Homo sapiens: one gene and its partner. The protein of the gene in region 1 purifies or fractionates together with the protein of each later gene. This does not show direct contact. Each region holds a gene or a part of one and is shown in the gene's direction. Other genes may lie near its edges.

Region 1 (4,156 bases):
TTCACCATGTTGGCCAGGCTGGTCTCAAACTCTTGACCTCAAGTGATCAGCCTGCCTTGGCCTCCCAAAGTGCTGGGATTACAGGTGTGAGGCTCCACACCCAGCCCCTAGCTTCTAGGTTCAATAAAAGTTCAAATACATCTATTTCTTACCATTGGCTTTTTTGTTTTGGATATAAAATTATTTCCTTGTGCTAATTATGTGGTCTTTGTTAAGAACAATTTTAATGACTGTGTAATCCACAGCGTTTATGTATCCATTTATTTAAGCATTTCATTATTGGTGGACATTTAGGATGAATTTTTTTCTACCACTCTGTGTATGTATACATCTATTATAGGTCATACTATTATTTTTATTATGGAAAATTCCAAGTACATAAAAAAGAAAGGTAATAATGAATCCTCCCCAACCAGCCTCAGCAATTATCAACACATGGCCCACCTTGTTTCATCCCTACTCCCACTACTCCTTGGTTCCACTATTGCCAAGCAAATCCCAGATGTCTCATTTCAGTTTTGTAAATATATAACTGTAAAAGATAACCACTCTGAAAAGATAGCCACATTACAATTATTCATTAAGAAACCCGGCAGGGTGCGATGGCTCACGCCTGTAATCCCAGCACTTTGGGAGGCCGAGGCCGGCGGATCACCTGAGGTCAGGAGTTTGAGACCAGCCTAGCCAACATGGAGAAACCCGGCCTCTGCTAAAAATACAAAAAAATAAGCGGGGCGTAGTGATGGGCGCTTGTAATCCTCTTTACTTGGGAGGCTGAAGCGGGAGAATCGCTTGAACCTGGGGGCGGAGGTTCCAGTGAGCCGAGATCGCGCCATTGCACTCCAGCCTGGGCGACAGAGCGAGACTGTCTCAAAAAAAAAGAAAAAAGAAATGAAAGAAACCCAGCCATTAAATATCCAGCGACCACATTGCTCCAATTTTCTTATAATTTTTTTTTTTTTTTTTTTTTTTTTGAGACGGAGTCTTGCTCTGTCGCCCAGGCTGGAGTGCAATGGCACGATCTCGGCTCACTGCAACCTCCCCCTCCCGGGTTCAAGCGATTCTCCTGCCTCAGCCTCCCAAGTAGTTGGGATTACAGGCGCCCGCCACCGCGCCTGGCTAATCTTTGTATTTTTAGTAGAGCCGGGGTTTCGCCCTGTTGGCGAGGCTAGTCTCGAACTCCTGGCCTCAAGTGATCCGCCCGCCTTGGCTTCCCAAAAGTGCTGGGATTACAGGCGTGAGCCACCGTGCCCGTCCTATAACTTCTTTTAACGGTTTGAATTCAGATCTAAATAAAGGTCCCATGTAGCGATTGGTGGATAGCTCTCTAGTGCTCCCCATCCTCGCTTCCTAGCTGCCGCCCCGAAGAGTGGCTGGGGAGCAGGCATTTGTGCGTCTTGCAAGCTTCGACAGATAGGAAGTCCCAGGCGGGGACTGTGACCCCCGCCGCTGCCCTGGCTGAGTTCCCACCTGGGCCGCTGCAGGGAGGAGGTCGCAGAGCTGCCGGCTGGCGCCGCCCCGCCGCTCTCCTGCCTGCCCGCTCCCCGCATGAGCCCCGCGGCCCCGCCCTGCGCCACCCGCCCGCCCGTGGGACTCAGTGCGGCCAAGCCGGGCTCCGCAGGTGAGGCGCGCGCGGGGGCCTGGGCGGAGGACTCACGGGGCAAAGCGCTGGGGGAGCGGGTGGGCGCCCACCGCTGGGCCTCCCTAGGGAAGGGGTGCAGGTGATGGATGGCGTGGGGGACAGACCGAGAGAAAGAGGGTGGGCAAAGTGTGGGTGCAGCGGCTTTAAGGGCTCCTGGGATTGGAGGGCACTTGGAGGGGGGGGACGATGAAACTTCGAGAAAAGGGATCCAAAACTACTTAGTAATATAATAACAGCGATGACAACTGTTGCAATAACTATCACAATGATTATTTGTTATAATAATATAGCAGCAGTAAAAACAATAGCATTAGTAATAATAGCTACGATTCATTGCATTCTTATATGTGCCAGTGCTGGGCTTAGTTCTTTATGTATTTTATGTATAAAGTAATGCCTACCTCATAACAGTTGTGTGGAAGAAATGGAAAAATGCAGGTAAAGGCCGGGGCTCACACCTGTAATCCCAGCACTTTGGGAGGCTGAGGCAGGAGAATCACTTGAGGCCAGGAGTTCGAGACCAGCCTGGCCAAAGTGGTGAAATTCCATCTCTACTAAAAATACAAATATTAGCCAGGTGTGGTGGCGGGCGCCTGTAATCTCAGCTACTCCGGAGGCTGAGGCAGGAGAATCGCATCAATCCGGCAGGTGGAGGTTGCAGTGAGCCGAGATCAGGCCACTGCCCTCCATTCTGGGCGACACAGGGAGACTCTGTCTCATGAATGAATAAATAAATAAATAAATAAATAAATAAATAAATAAACAAATAAAGTTGATAGTTTTTTGCCAGGGAGGTATGAGTGCCATGCCTACTATGCAGAGGAGGAAATGCAAGCCTATAGAGGTTAAGGAATTTGCCCAATAGCACACAGCTGGTTAAGGTTTGGTTCAGGTTAAAGCTGGGGTCTTATCCCTGGGGTGGCACCTGCCACCTGGAGTTTTAGGTTCAGGGCTGCTGAGCTGACACTGGAGAGCAAAGCCAGTGAGCGTTGGAATCATTTAGCTCTGGGTTTGCCACCTGGCTGTGCATGCATAGCTGTGTGACCTTGGGCAGGTCACTTGACCTCTCAGAACCCATTTGCTCATCTGTGAAGTAGAGATAATGGTAATGCTTGCCTCAAAGATTCTACAAGAATTAAGCGAGACAATGTATGTTAGAGAGGCGTGTACTTAGTTCTGTCTCATTAAATGACTGCTGGGATTAAGGTTACTAGGGAGCCCCACAGCCCTGCATCATAACCCCCTCCCTGCCATTCGCTTGCTGTGTGATCGTTCATGTGCACTGAACTCATCTGTGAAACTGAGTACGGTAACCCTTCAAGGCTGGTGGAAAGAGTAAATGGCAGGGAGGAGGGTTTGGTGTGATGCCCGGCTCATAGAGGATGCTCAGTGAGACCAGTTTCTTCCTTTCTTTCCTTCTTTTCCTCATTGAATCCAAAGCCATTTGTTCTCCGGAGACTTAGGAGAGAAGAAGGGGAATAGCTGTGCCTAAAATCTCACTATTAGTGGCAGGGCTGGGACAGGAACTCAAGTCTGGGCATCTCTAGTCCACCAAGCTCCCATCCCCTTGACTGCTTGAATTTTTTTTTTTTCCAGCCAGGGTTTTGCTCTGTCACCCAGGCTGGAATGTAGTGACATGTGATCGCGGCTCACTGTGGCCTCGACCTCCCAGGCTCAGGCAATTCTCCTGCCTCAACCTCCTGAGTAGCTAGGGCTACAAGCATGCACCCAGCTAATTTTTAAATTATTTGTAGAAATGGAGTCTCCCTATGTTGCCCAGGCTGGTTTTGAACTTCTGGACTCAAGTGATCCTCCCACCTTGGCCTCCCAAAGTGCTGGGGTTACAGGAGTGAGCCACAAAGCCTGGGCCTACTGGACTTCTACAACCACTGTGAGCTGGGCCATTCCAACACCAAGCATTTGTAATCAGGCTGGTATTCTATAAGCCAGACACATTTACCTATTTTGGATTAATAGTCATGAAATGGCATTTTTTTTTTTTTTTTTTGGTGGAAAATCTCCCAGCTAGTGTCAGTATGCCTAGAGTTATGTGTTCATGACCCAGAGCTTAAATGGAGCAGCCTTGCAGACAGTGAAACTCCATGTAATTGTGAATTAATGGTTTGTGTCTGGGCTGGGGTGTCCCAGCAGGAGGGGAACCTCCTAGCATCTTTGCAAATTTCACAGAAGATGAAGTGACTCTGATCCATGGGTTGACCAACTCCTCCGGGTTTGCCTGTGACTTTCTGGTTTCAAAATGGAAAGTTTTGAGTCCTGGGAAACCTTTTGGTCCCGGGCAACTGGGAAAGTTGATCACCTTGCACATCCAAACATTCATAGTTTCTCAGGAAATTGTCTTCATTTCAGGTTTGTGGTTATTGTTGCTGTTTTCGAGTAGTTTTCACCACAGGGATCCTTGCCTGACTGATTTCCTCCAGTCTGCAGTGGGGGAATCTTTCAGTGGGGAAGGGGTATGGCCCATAGAGAAAGCTATCGACCTCCAAATCATCATCG
Region 2 (3,500 bases), on another chromosome or scaffold:
ATAGGAAAGTCAATATCATAAGAGTATCAATTCTACCCAAATTCATATATAAATTCAGTGCATTTCCAATTGAAATCTCCACAGAATTTTCTTTGAGAGACTGTACAGGCCGATTCTAGCATTGATACGGAACTGTAAAAAGAAAAAAAATAGTTGGGATGCTTCTGAAGAAGAATCAGATCTAAGGGGGCTTGCCTTACTAGGCGTCAAGACTTATTTTAAAGCTGTGTTAATTATGGCAGTGGTATATTGATGCAGGAATTCACAAATAGACTAGTGAAACAGGGTAGGGTCTAGAAACCAGCTCATTTTTGTATGTAATCTTGATTTATGACAGAGCAGTCACTCATAGTTACAGCAGAAGAAAAAGGGACCATTACATAAATAGTGGTGGAACAACTGGTTATCCATAGAAGAAATAAATGAAGTTGGATACTTACTGTATATCATAGTTAAAATCAGTCCCTTGAAGATTAAAGTCTTAAATATAAAAAACAAAAAAAAAATTTTTTTAATTAGTTGAGTGTGGTGTTATGTGATCCCAGCCGTGGTCCCAGCTACTCAGGAAGCTGAGGTGGGAAGATCACTTGAGGAGGTCGAGGCTGCAGTGGCCCCTGATTGCACTACTGCATTCCAGCCTGGGTGGTGACAGAGTAGTGATACCCTGTTTCAAGGGAAAAAATAAAAAATAAAAACACTTACTATACAATTGTTCTGTAGTTGGCATTAAACAGGAATGTTTTGAAAGATTTCTTAACTTGCTTTTATGACATCAGGAGAACAGTGGTGTGTCCCATCATCGATGTGATCAGTGATGATACTTTTGAGTACATGGCAGGCTCTGATATGACCTATGGTGGGTTCAACTGGAAGCTCAATTTTCGCTGGTATCCTGTTCCCCAAAGAGAAATGGACAGAAGGAAAGGTGATCGGACTCTTCCTGTCAGGTAATTAATTTGTCAGACATTTTGCCTAAAGTGTTATTGGCAGAAGGTTGTGGAGCTTTGGGAATCATATCAAATGGATAAGTGTATTTTGAGAAACGTGAAGCATTCGTATACCTTATGGTAGTTAACAGCCATCTTTCACATATGTGAGTGTTTTAAAGAAGGATTTCTCCTCTAATAAAATTAGAAATTTTTGCTTATTCTATAAATCTAGTGCACATGAGAAATGATGACATGCGTGTTTTTTCATTCCTTTATGAACATTTTGCAAATGCGTCAGATCTGTACTTTAATTCAGTTATTAAGGATAATAATACTTAGCTTAATTAATTGTGTCAGTATGTGAAGATACTACCTAAAACTGGGTCCTTGCATTAAAATGTACAATTTTAAATTCAGACTTGTACCATCTGGATGACAGTTATTGACTGGTAAAGTTAGAAAAGCTTGTGTAAAACATAAAAATAGCTAGAATTGACACAAAATATAAAAAAATTCATTAATCCATTTATTCTCTGATTTTTTTTCTCTACTTGGTCATATATAGATTTTTTTTTCAGGATGGAATAAAAATCTTCATGCTCTTTTTAGAACATGAAATTGAGACCTTTGAGCTCTTCTGAGCCATCCTAGAATTTAGCCCCATTGTACCGACCTGCTACTTCTGTATTAAGAGTTCCTTCAGAACCAGGCTTCAGCTTTTCTGTTTTTGGGCCTCCTGCGTCTGCCTTCCCTTGAATTCAAGTTCAGTTCTGGCAACACTGAAGAGATTTTCCACTGACTGTGTGCTTTTTTCCTTAGCCTGAGTTCTTAGTAGTAGTAGTGCAAGGGACTTTTCTTCTCTTTAGCTGTTAGTGCAATTCACTATCTAAATCAGGGGTTCCTAAACATTTCAAAAATGACAAAATTTTTTGAAAATCTGGTGAAAGCTATGGGTCTTCTCTAATGGAGAAAAATGCACATGTACATGCAGAAGATTTAGCACACAAAAAACTCAGGTCAAGAAAACCCTGTATTAAATGATAATTCTGAATTTTGGCTGTTTCTTTTAAATCCTTTTCTCATTCTTTTTTTCTTCTAAAATCAAAATAAGTCCAAACCTTTTTTGGAAACAACTGTTTCCTCTGGAAAGGCAATGAGTACATTTTAGGGTTCATCTTAAAATATAATCTTCGTGGTATCTTTGGTCCCTGTAACTTATTTTTTTCTCCTGGTTGGAGTTTACTTTTTCTCCATACTTGTTCTTTATAAAAATCAAATGGGCTGATATTCATTTATTTAAATCTTCCTTCATTTCTTAATAATTTCTCTGCTTAATTTCACATGTTCCCACTCCCTTTGCATACCTGAGCCCTATTTTGATGAATTAGACTCCTCTTTTGCAGAAAATATACCACACAGTCAGGAAGGAACATATTGATTTTATTCTATATTTTGTCTCCTCTCCTTAAAGATTTCTAGTGGGTATTAGGAAAAGACCTCACTGTTTCCATCCAGTTTATCTTATGTATTTATACTATTTGCCACCCTTTAGAACATGGCATGGTAACTCTAACCTCAATCTACTTGGTTAATATAGTCAACTGCCTTGAAGTTGCTAGGATCTGTGGAGTGGGTGCACAGTCAGATGGAGAGGATTGTGAGGAACAGCTTTAATTTAAGGAGTTTGAGATCTAAACTCAGTTAGGACCTGAGGGCCAAGAAAGATAGAAAGTACTCTTAGGACTGTGACAGAGAGGGATGTCTGGGCAGAAGCATGACACAGCAAGTCTAGCAGTCAGCATGACCATGGTGCAGGTCATGTGTGAAGACCAAATAACACAGCATAAAACACAGAAAGCCCCTGGGGCGTATGAAAGTTTATGAAGAGTGTGAGAATAAGTACTTACTCAGTAGTTATAAATAGTTATGAAACAGCTTTTAAAAACAAAAACTGATTGATTGTAAATTTTAAATTGCTAATGGTATAGCATTATTGAATTTCAGGACACCTACCATGGCAGGAGGCCTTTTTTCAATAGACAGAGATTACTTTCAGGAAATTGGAACATATGATGCTGGAATGGATATTTGGGGAGGAGAAAACCTAGAAATTTCCTTTAGGGTAAGTTCCCTTAAAAAAATTTAATCTTTTATTTAACTTCAAGTATAGATGTGCATTGATTATTCATGTATCTCTACATAAAAAATAAAAATTGAATTTAATACAAGTTTAATGTAACTTCAGAGCCTTCAGTCCATAAAAAGGACTGATAGTAAGGGTTCATTATAAACTATTGAAGCAAATAATTTAGTTACCTTTGAAGTTCAGCTATAAAACTTACACAAGATTCCCTAGTTGTTTTTAATTTTTATTATTTTCAAGGAAGTAATTTAAGCTCTAAAAGCTAATATATAGTTTGGATATGCTACTTTGCTGCTTTACTCTCAAAAACATAAATTTCACATTTAAACATAAATTTCACATTTTGTAATATGCTTTTTATTTTAGTGTGAAAATTTTTTTTATATAAAACCTAGTCACTTTACCAGCTTTATATTTTTCAATAAAAA

The links. The genes of interacting proteins can lie anywhere in the genome.
Region 2: the proteins of OTOA (region 1) and GALNT1 purify together in Homo sapiens (affinity purification with mass spectrometry; one large-scale study listed by BioGRID and IntAct). This does not show direct contact.

The regions. Positions count from the first base shown.
Region 1 is NC_000016.10:21,662,612-21,666,767, forward strand, and holds the start of OTOA (otoancorin isoform 1 precursor), read left to right. Parts: upstream 1-1,356; 5' UTR 1,357-1,621; intron 1,622-4,156. UniProt on the Homo sapiens protein: May act as an adhesion molecule.
Region 2 is NC_000018.10:35,686,240-35,689,739, forward strand, and holds part of GALNT1 (polypeptide N-acetylgalactosaminyltransferase 1), read left to right. Parts: exon of another isoform or gene 1-132; intron 133-440; exon of another isoform or gene 441-692; intron 693-776; coding exon 777-947; intron 948-2,933; coding exon 2,934-3,051; intron 3,052-3,500. UniProt on the Homo sapiens protein: Catalyzes the initial reaction in O-linked oligosaccharide biosynthesis, the transfer of an N-acetyl-D-galactosamine residue to a serine or threonine residue on the protein receptor.